Linked DNA regions of Homo sapiens: region 2 is linked to region 1. The links come from fine-mapping of genetic effects on gene expression. A gene starts in region 1. The other region holds a variant in brackets. All regions are shown on one strand. Distances are from middle to middle. Region 1 holds the start of SMURF1 (SMAD specific E3 ubiquitin protein ligase 1). Region 2 has its middle 12 kb from the start of CYP3A7-CYP3A51P.

Evidence for each region. PIP is the estimated chance that this variant, and not a neighbour inherited with it, causes the effect. A credible set is the group of variants that fine-mapping cannot tell apart.
Region 2: its variant is the best candidate, but not a certain one, in a credible set for the expression of SMURF1 in whole blood (INTERVAL, PIP 0.62).

The regions. Positions count from the first base shown.
Region 1 is chr7:99,140,908-99,146,285 of GRCh38, reverse strand. SMURF1 (SMAD specific E3 ubiquitin protein ligase 1) reads left to right here and starts at 2,178. Exons shown (of 18, transcript NM_181349.3): 1 at 2,178-2,560. The coding sequence starts at 2,506. It also overlaps a transcript of KPNA7 not described here. RefSeq lists silencers at 1,917-2,416, 2,557-2,886, 2,947-2,996.
Region 2 is chr7:99,744,698-99,750,075 of GRCh38, reverse strand. It overlaps the pseudogene CYP3AP2. Among named protein-coding and RNA genes, the nearest start is that of CYP3A7-CYP3A51P, 12 kb to the right of the region's middle. The variant T/C (reference allele first, on the strand shown) is at 2,846.

The sequences.
Region 1 (5,378 bases):
ATTAAGGAAACAGTCAAGCCAACGAAGAACCAGCCGTCGGGGCGGGGAGAAAAACAACAAAATTAAGCAATGAAAGGTTTCCAGGTCAGGAACACCTGGGGATAAGAACAGGAGCCTGCACCCAGGTAAGCAGAGAGTGATGTCTGGTTTTGTTTAGAGAGGAGACTCTTTGAATAGGGGGGAAATACTAACGGGATTGGCAGAAGAATGGGGATTACTTGGGAGCATTAGAGACTGGATGGATTAATTCAGACCCAGGCATTCACTCTCTGTGACAATCATCTACAAATGGAAACAGCTGGATTGTGGCTCTACTGCTATTGCTTAAACATTGCTTATATTCTTGGGTCTTTCTTGAGGATAACTGAAAGAGCCGCAAGGTGCCATAGAAATGACCTAGGACCATCCTTTTATTTGACAGATGTGATGCCTTGAATCCTGCCCAGGAGAGACTCTGCTTTCACTAGGGTCATCCGAGGCAGGCAGGCAGGCAGGCAGGCGGGCAGGCAGGCAGGTATGTCTAGGCGCTCTAGGTAGAAGGCTCTGTTCCGAAGACTGTGACCTTAGGACAGGCACAAGGCTGCAGGGGATGGTAGCAATGGCCCAGAGCCTACTTTCCTTGGGACACACACACACACACACACACACACAGTATTAAAAGAATTTGTTCAAGTTGATTGATGAAGAATCAAATAAAAATAAAAAAGAACTTGTACATGAAAATGGGTAGTGGGGTCTGGGAGCGGTGGCTTAGGCCTGAAATCCCAGCACTTTGGGAGGCTGAAGCGGGCAGATCACCTGAGCTCAGAAGTTTGAGACCAGCCTGGCCAAAACAGCGAAACCCCATCTCTACCAAAAATACAAAAATTAGCTGGGTGTGGTGGCTAACGCCTGTAATCCCAGCTATACAGGAGGCTGAGACACGAGAATCACTTGAACCTGGGAGGTGGAGGTTGCAGTGAGCCAAGACCGTGCCACTGCACTCCAGCCTGGGTGACAGAGTGAGACCCTGTCTCAAAAAACAACAACAACAACAACAAGGTAGTGGGTAAAAAACAAGTTTGATAAACCTAGTTTTCCCTCTTTCTAATAATACCAGTTTATTTCTATAACATGCTAACAGAGAGGAGTTTGTTTGCTGGAGAAAGCGCATAATGAGCTTTTTCTGTGTGTGTGTGTGTGTGTGTGTGTGTGTGTTTTGAGACAGTGTCTAGCTCTGTCACCCAGGCTGTAGTGCAGTGGCCTGATCATAGCTCACTGCAGCCATGAACTCTGGGGCTCAAGTGATCCTCCCACCTCAGCCTCCCAGTACCTGGGACTACAGGCGCGCACCACCATGCCCAGCTAATTTTTGTATTTTTTGTAGAGATGGAGTCTCCCTATGTTGCCCAGGCTGGCCTCAAAGTCCTGGGCTCAAGTGATCCGCCCGCCTCGGCCTCCCAAAGTGCTGGGATTACAGGCTACAGCCACCGTACCCAGCCATGAGCTTTTGGTTCTAACCTGCAACCCCGGGAGAAGGGGAAATTTAGCAGAAGACATGGGAACACAAACCACAATGCCACTTTCTTGTTTGGTAAAATTGTATGCAGAATGGATAATAACAAACATCCGCCTCTCAACTTTATCCCTCCCTCTCATCTCGTTTTCCTTGTCCGTATATGGCACTTCTGCGATTCTGGCAACTTTGTTATGGGTCAGTGGAGCACACCCGTTGCACAGAACACACCTAAGGGCTTTGTCTCTTTGAGAAGTCCCTCCCTTGAACTTGCACGATCGAAAGCTCTTAACTGAAAAAAACTGGTATTGCACGCCTGTGTGCAAGGAGCTTGGTGTGGACACAGCCCACGGTTTCATGCAAACCACTCTTCAGTCACTCAGGAGCCCAGAGCCTCGCAGAGACAGGGGTCAAGACAGAGGGCGACCGCGCGCTGGGTCCCGGGGCCAGCTCTGCTCTCCCTTCCCGGGCTCGGGGCCAGACCCTCCCACCCACCGACCACAGGAAGGGTGAAGACCCCAACCCGCGGGATCCGGGCCCCGCGCGCCCGAGGCAGGCGTGCGGGCGACGTAGCAGCGCACCCCGCCCCGCCCCAGCGTACGTGGCGGGGGCGCGCACGCACGCAGGCGCGGGGGCGCGCAGGGCCGGGCCGGCACGGCGGCGGGCGCGCGCGCGGCTCGGAGAGGCGGCGGCAGCGGCGGAAGCGGCGAGGGCGGCGGGCGTCCGGCTCTGAGGTGGTGGAGGCGGCGGAGGCGGCGGCGGAGGCGGCGGCGGCTCGGGACTGGGCTCGGCTGGAAGCAGCGAGGGTCAGAGCGCCGCAGCAAGCGCCGATCTCCCGGCTCGACCATCCGCCTGCCGCCCGGACGCCTGGGCCGCGGAGTTTGTGTCCCGGCTCGGACCCCGGCGCCCAGCCCGGAGCCGTAACCTTGAGGCGGCGGCGGCGGGGCCGGGCCGGGCCGGGCTGGGGGGCGGTGGCGCTGGATCCGCGGCTGCCCGATCGTTGGCGGGAGATGTCGAACCCCGGGACACGCAGGAACGGCTCCAGCATCAAGATCCGTCTGACAGGTACGGCCGGCGGGAGGCCCACCCGCGCCCCGGCGCCCCCTCGCCCGCCCCGGAATTCCCCGCAGGGCGCCCTTGGAAGCGGCCCTCCCCCACGCCGGCCGTTGTCCCAGGACCTCGTCACCCCCTTCGGCGTGCGCCCCTCGCTTCTCCCTCCTGGCCCCGCCCCCTCGCCGTTGCCCGGCCCCGCCCCCTGGCCGCTCGCGCCCCCTCGGTCTCGCGTTCCCTCCCGTTCCCCCGCACCTGCCCCCTCGCATCTCCGTCCTGGCCCCGCCCCTCTCATTTCCATTCATGGCCACGCCCCTTGCATCTCCTTCCCTGGCCCCGCCCCTCGCTTCTCTTTTCCTGGCCCCGCCCCTTGCATCTCCTTCCAGGCCCTTTCCCCTCACCTCTCCCCGGCTCGGCCCCTTGCCTCTCGCTTCCCTTCCTCTCCCTAGCACCTGACCCCTCGCTTCTCCCCCCAGGCCCCGCCCCCTTGCCTTTCACCTCCATCCCTGTGGTCCTTTCTCTTCCCCACCTTTCCTCCCCAAACCTGACCCCGCCCATCTCTCTGGCCCCACCCCCTCGCTCCTCTCTGCTCCCGCCTCCTAACTTTCTGTCCCCGCCCCCTCGCTTCTCCCTGCGTCCAGCTCCCTCGCTTCTCTCTGGTCCCGCCTCCTCACTTCTTTCCTAGCCTGGGCCCTCACTTCTTCCTGGTCCCGCCTCCTCACTTCTTTCCTAGCATCGGCCCTCACTTCTTCCTGGTCCCGCCCCCTTGCTTCTCTCCTTTTTTTCTCCTCCGCCGTTTTTACCCCCTCCCTCCTTCTCCTCGCTTCCCATCCTCTCCGCCCACCTGCCCCCTCGCTTTTCCCTCCTGGCCTTGCCTCTGTTCCCCTGGTCCCATCCCTCACTTCTCACCACTTTCCCATCATCTCTCTTGCTTTCCTGTTTTCCCTCCCACCTGCTCCCTCCCCTCATCCTCCTGGTCTTTCCCACCACTTCCAAGCTATTTTGCTACCTCCCCTTCCACTTGCCCCCTTGCTTCTCCCCTCCTGCCCCCACCCACCCTCTTCTCACTCCCCCATCCTCTTTCGTTTCTCCCTCACCCCCCCACACCGTCCTCCTCCCTTCTTCCCCTAGCCCCGCCCCTCACTTTCAAGCCCCGCCCTCATTCCTGCCTAGCCCCGCCCCCTCGCTGCTGTCTGGCGAGGCCTCCACCCTTTCTTTCCTTCAGCCTGAAATTCCTCAATCCTATCTTGTAGCTGCTCCCAGTCCTGCTCTCTTCACTTCCCCCTGGTCCAGCCCTCTTCAGTCTCAGTCTGGGCCACTTCCTGTCTCTTAGGCCAGACCGCTAGCTACTTTTAACTCTGCTTCTTCAATTTTTACCTTTTCTGCATTTTGTTTCACCATCACCCCCACACTCAGCAACCCAGAGCGCCGTGAGGCTCTGATCCCTACTCCCACACTCACTGGAGGCTTTGGAAGCTGCCCACACGCAGGCTCCTTGATTCATTTTGTCTTCAATGAAAAGTCCGTGTTTCCTGGGTGGCTCTGTAGTGCCACCTTCAAGGGTGAGCGCAACGCTCTGCCGCGGGCCTGCGACTTGGTGGCGCGGATGTGATGCCAACCTGTTTCCCCCCGGGCTCCAGAGGTTCTGGACCAGGCTGCATCCTCGTCTTCCCTTTCTCACTCTCATTGGTACTACTCTCTTTCCAGTTTCAATTCATCCCTAAAGCAGGATGGCCGTGTTGCAAATGCGGCTCTGCTCCGGGACTTTCCAAACTCGAATATTTCCAGCTCTGGAAGGAAACTAAAAAGTTCATTCTAATCCCCGTCAGGGATTTTCCCCTGGATTTTTCTGTTCAGTGGCTCAGTCGGGTGAGAACTCCAAAGTCCTGGTTTGGTCAGGTCCTTTCAAAGAGAGAATGAGCGTTTTGAACACTTTATGGCAGATGCGCAGCCATAAAGTCATCGGTAAAATCCATGCAAACAATAGGTAATTTTTTTAAACTAAAATTTACTTTGAGAGCCCATAGTTGTTGCATGGCCCAACTTTTGTCTTAAGAGAAGGTTTTGTTTTTTTGTATAAAGATATCAAATAATGATTTGGACCCAAACCCAGACCCTGGTTTTGTAACGTAGGAGGTAGTTTCCTCTGGGATCTTTGCTTCTGGGGAAATACATTTCTTTATGCCAGGGCTGATAGGAAACGCTTCTCACTTTGTAGATACAATGTAGATACATTTTTATTTATGTGGTAAGATAAAAGTAACATTTTTGAGATTGTAATACTTGTAAAGCTTTTAACTTGGTTCTGATTTACAGCTCAGTCTGTAATTGACATCAGATTGGTTTCAGTTATCTTGTTAAAAGCGAAAGCAACTGATTTTGTGTTAGAAATATGATGAATGTTTTAGAAGGAATAGGTTTTAATTGAAATGTTTATGTCTGGTGTATGTATATTAATCAATCCTATTTGCCAAGCCTGAGCCTTGAAAGGGAGGACTTGGTTTCTCCTCCTACCAAATTATTTTTGGATTTAGGAATTTAGATTATCGAAGCAAGAATGCTTTGAGGAATTTTTGGATGACATTTGATAGGGAAGGATCAGGTGATGAGTGTTGTTTCTGAAACACCTTTTCCCTTTCCCTTTCCCTTTCAGTAGATGTTATGAATGGTTTGAGAGGATTTGTGAGTGTGATCATCCTTACAATAGGATTGCGGTTTAGCGGTAATGGTACACATGCAATGCCAGTACGTGGAACCTTAGTTTACCTCGAAAGGTTTGAACTAGAAGTTTGTTGACGGTGGAATAGGTTTTAGTCTCATCTTTCTGGTTAAG
Region 2 (5,378 bases), 600 kb before region 1:
GGTTACTTATGTAAAATACTGCATCTTTTGCTATCAACAGGAAGGTACATGGACATTAGAAGGCCCCTGCCTTTCAGCTGAAAGCACATATGAGGCATATGGATCCATTTATATACACCATACTTTTCAGCTGCATTTTCCTAATTTGCCTCTCTGGGGCCAACCTTGTGGGACTAGCAGATTCACGGTTGAATTGATGGCTGGTGATGTCTGCCATCAGCCTTTCTTCTTCCTCTAGTCCTCCGCTCCTCAGTAACATCAGACTGGGAAGGTCTTCAGACATCCAGAACCCCCAGTTGGGGGAGTCCATACATGACCCATCAAAGATGAGTTGCAAGCAGGCCTGCCATAAAGAGCAGCAGCCTTAATGGGTTTTCCTACAGAGATAGTCAATGTACAGAGGCAATAAACTGACTGCTTTGTGATTGATCACCTTGAAAAAATGAGCATGTCTGGATATATTAGTCATTTCTTGCATTGCTGTAAAGAAATACCTGAGGCTGGGTAATTTATAAAGAAAAGAGATTTAATTGGCTCATAGTTCTGCAGGCTCTACAGGAAGCATAGCGACTTCTGCCTCTAGGGAGGCCTCAGGAAATTTACAATCATGGCAGAAGGTGAAGGAGGAGCAGGCGGATCTTACATGGCTGTAGTAGAAGCAAGAGAGGGTGGGGAGGAGGAGCCACACACTTATAAACCACCAGATCTCATAAAAACTCATTGTCACGAGGACAACAGCGAAGGCAGGATGGTGTGAAACCATGAGAAACTGCCCCTAGGATCCAATCACCTCCTATCAGGCCCCACCTCCAGCATTTGGGGTTACATTTCAACATGAGATTTGGGTAGGGGCACAGATTCAGACCATATCACTGGCACTGTGCTTATCAGATGAATATCACCAGTTGGAAGGCTAGATTCCACAAGAGGAGGAATGTCCTGGAAATTGGTTTCTTAAGTTGTGATTCTTCTGCACACTGTCATTCAGGGCAATATGAGTCAATCATTCTCCCCCATAGCTGAAATCAACCAGATCATCTGACCACAGAGACTGAGGTGTAGCTGAAAGGTGCTCGCATTTCTACGAGGCCAGTAGAAGCCTGGAGCACAGTTGTCAATCTGTAGAAATAAGGACTCTGACTCCTCCAAGACCTCTCTGTGAATGACAGTTTAAGAAGGGCCAGATCCTAAAACAGGGTCAGAGCTTAGCAGAAAGGGAAAGCATAAAAGCCTTTGAGCAATTCTAAAGACAGGGCCACAATAGGCTCTCAGTGACCCTCTGTGACTGAGTGGATGCAGCGATGCAAAATCTAACCATTACTGCTGAAGACAAAAAAAAAAAGTCACCCTTTCTACCTAGGATGAGAAGCCCTAAATCAGTGGGGTCCACTTACTAAATAGACATAAAGGAATGAAGTGCCCTGGAAGAATTCCTGCCTGAACCTCTCAGGAGCACTCATGTTTGAGGACACTTATCAAGTATTCACTCCAGGATTGGGACCATGAAAACTTCAGCTGCTTTTAGCTAATCACTGTGACTTTTGGGGTGTCACAGTGCAGGCAGGAAAGGACCTGATGAACAAACATAATCATTGCTGTCGGAGTTACTGTTATTTATTGCCTTAATGTTACCTCCTTCTCCTGAGCATTACATTTCCTCAGTCAGTAACTCACCATCCCCTATATCTATAAAGTCACAATCCTTGAGACATGATTTCTGTTTCACTTTGTAGATATGAAACCCATTCACATGGACTTTTTAAAAATCTTGGCATTCCAGGTCCCAGACCTCTGCTTTTTTTGGGAACTACTTTGTCCTACCATCAAGTGAGTGTTTTTGAGCTCACTCTTTGGCTTCTTATGATTGCAAACAGCAGCTTAGTTCCATCAGTAAAAATGTTTCTCTGCAAAAGGAAGGTCTGAGGTTTTACCCTTTCAGAAACAGTGTGTAGGCATCACCCAGAGCATGGCAATGTTTACACAGGGGCTCTCTTGCTAACTCTCAGGAACCTCAGATTTGCCTAATTTGAACAGCCCAAATCTCAGGTAGATCAGCAACCTGATGTTCAAAACTTGATATGCAGACTTTGTGAACACCATAAAGAAGATTTTCTTTTTGCTCCGTGTAGGTTCCCAGGAAAGTACAGTCATTGTTAGTATTAAAAGTCGGAACAGGATCCCTTGATTGTGGCTTGTTATCTGTGTACATGAGAGTCAAACTTTCTTCTCTGTAGCAAGAGCTCATGAGTAGCCTTTTCCCCCTTCCTCCTGGACAGCTTTGAAACTCAGTTTATTAGGGAGATCAAGTATTTACCATTGGGTCATTTGCACCTGCTTGAATCATCTCCAACAAATGCTAAATTCCCTAAGGGTTTTTCCATGGCTCTACCTTAGCTCTTACTCCCCATGACGTCTTTTGCAGCTTTGAGACACACAAAAAAGGGGTTCTGCTTTACTTCTTTTTATTCAAAGGCTGCACTTTATTAGTGAGTCTGAGGAAGGAGTGGATGTAACTGAGATGAGATAGTGGTTGTCTATCAAACTTGGATCTTTTTTTTTATATAATACTTTCAGTTCTAGGGTACATGTGCACAACGTGCAGGTTTGTTACATATGTATACATGTGCCATGTTGGTGTGCTGCACCCATTAACTCATCATTTACAAGGTATATCTCCTAATGCTATGCCTCCCACCGCCCCCAACCCCACATCAGGCCCCGGTGTGTGATACTCCCTTTCCTGTGTCCAAGTGTTCTCATTGTTCAATTCCCACCTATGAGTGAGAACATGAGGTGTTTGGTTTTTTGTCCTTGTGATAGTTTGCTGAGAATGATGGTTTCCAGC[T/C]TCATCCATGTCCCTACAAAGGACATGAATTCATCCTTTTTTATGGCTGCATAGTATTCCATGGTGTATATGTGCCATATTTTCTTAATCCAGTCTATCATTGACAGACATTTGGCTTGGTTCCAAGTCTTTGCTATTTTGAATAGTGCCACAATAAACATACGGGTACACGTGTCTTTATAGCAGCATGATTTATAATCCTTTGGGTATATACCCAGTAATGGGATGGCTGGGTCAAATGGTATTTCTAGTTCTAGATCCCTGAGGAATCGCCACACTGACTTCCACAGTGGTTGAACTAGTTTACAGTCCCACCAACAGTGTAAAAGTGTTCCTATTTCTCCACATCCTCTCCAGCACCCGTTGTTTCCTGACTTTTCAATGATCGCCGTTCTAACTGGTGTGAGATGGTATCTCATTGTGGTTTTGATTTGCATTTCTCTGATGGCCAGTGATGATGAGCATTTTTTCATGTGTCTGTTGGCTGCATAAATGTCTTCTTTTGAGAAGTGTCTGTTCATATCCTTTGCCCACTTTTTGATGAGATTGCTTGTTTTTTTCTTATAAATTTGTTTGAGTTCTTTGTAGATTCTGGATATTAACCCTTTGTCAGATGAGTAGATTGCAAAAATTTTTTCCCATTCTGCAGGCTACCTTTTCACTCTAATGGTAGTTTCTTTTGCTGTGCAGAAGCTCTTTAGTTTCATTAGATCCCATTTGTCAATTTTGGCTTTTGTTGCCATTGCTTTTGGTGTTTTAGACATGACGTCCTTGCCCATGCCTATGTCCTGAATGGTATTGCCTAGGTTTTCTTCTAGGGTTTTTATGGTTTTAGGTCTTACATTTAAGTCTTTATTCCATCTTGAATTAATTTTTGTATAAGGTGTAACGAAGGGATCCAGTTTCAGCTTTCTACATATGGCTAGCCAGTTTTCCCAGCACCATTTATTAAATAGGGAATCCTTTCCCCATTGCTTGTTTTTGTCAGGTTTGTCAAAGATCAGATGGTTGTAGATGTGTGGTGTTTGTTCTGAGGCCTCTGTTCTGTTCCATTGGTCCATATCCCTGTTTTGGTACTAGTACCATGCTCTTTTGGTTACTGTAGCCTTGTAGTATAGTTTGAAGTCAGGTAGCGTGATTCCTCCAGCTTTGCTCTTTTTGCTTAGGATTGTCTTGGGAATGTGGGCTCTTTTTTGGTTCCATATGAAATTTAAAGTAGTTTTTTTTCCAATTCTATGAAGAAAGTCATTGGTAACTTGATGGGGATGGCATTGAATCTATAAATTACCTTGGGAAGTATGGCCATTTTCACGATATTGATTCTTCCTATCCATGAGCATGGAACATTCTTCCATTTGTTTGTGTCCTCTTTGATTTTGTTGAGCAGTGGTTTGTAGTTCTCCTTGAAGAAGTCCTTCACCTCCCTTTAATTTGGATTACTAGATATTTTATTCTCTTAGTAACAATTGCAAATGGGAGTTCACTCATGATTTGGCTCTCTTTCTGTTATTGGTGTATAGGAATGCTTGTGATTTTTGCGCATTAATTTTGTATCCTGAGACTTTGCTGAAGTTGCTTATCAGCTTAAAAGGATTTTGGGCTGAGACGATGGGGTTTTCTAAATATACAATCATGGCATCTGCAAACAGGAACAATTTGACTTCCTCTTTTCCTAATTGAATACCCTTTATTTCTTTTTCTTGCCTGATTGCCCTGGCCAGAACTTCCAATACTATGTTGAATAAGAGTCATGAGTGAGGGCATCGTTGTCTTGTGCTGGTTTCAAAGTTTTTGCCCATTCAGTATGATTTTGGCTGTGGTTTTGCCATAAATAGCTCTTATTATTTTGAGATACGTTCCACCAATACCTACTTTATTGAGAGTTTTTAGCAGGAAGGGCTGTTGAATTTTGTCGAAGGCCTTTTCTACATCTATTGAGACAATTATGTGGTTTTTTAATCGTTGATTCTGTTTATGTGATGGATTACATTTATTAATTTGCATATGTTGAACCAGCCTTGCATCCCAGGGATGAAGCCCACTTGATTGTAGTGGATAAGCTTTTTGATGTGCTGCTGGATTCAGTTTGCCAGTATTTTATTGAGGATTTTGGCATCAATGTTCATCAGGGATATTGGTCTAAAATTCTCTTTTTTTGTTGTGTCTCTGCCAGGCTTTGGTATCAGGATGATGCAGGCCTCAGAAACTGAGTTAGGGAGGATTCCCTCATTTTCTATTGATTGGAATAGTTTCAGAAAGAATGGTACCAGCTACTCTTTGTACCTCTGGTAGAATTCAGCTGTGAATCCATCTGGTCCTGGACTTTTTGGTTGGTAGGCTATTAATTATTGCCTCAATTTTAGGGCCTGTTATTGGTCTATTCAGACATTCAACTTCTTCCCGGTTTGGTCTTGGGAGGGTTTATGTGTCCAGGAATTTATCCATTTCTTCTAGATTTTCTAGTTTATTTGTGTAGAGGTGTTTATAGTATTGTCTGATGGTAGTTTGTATTTCTGTGAGATCGGTGGTGATA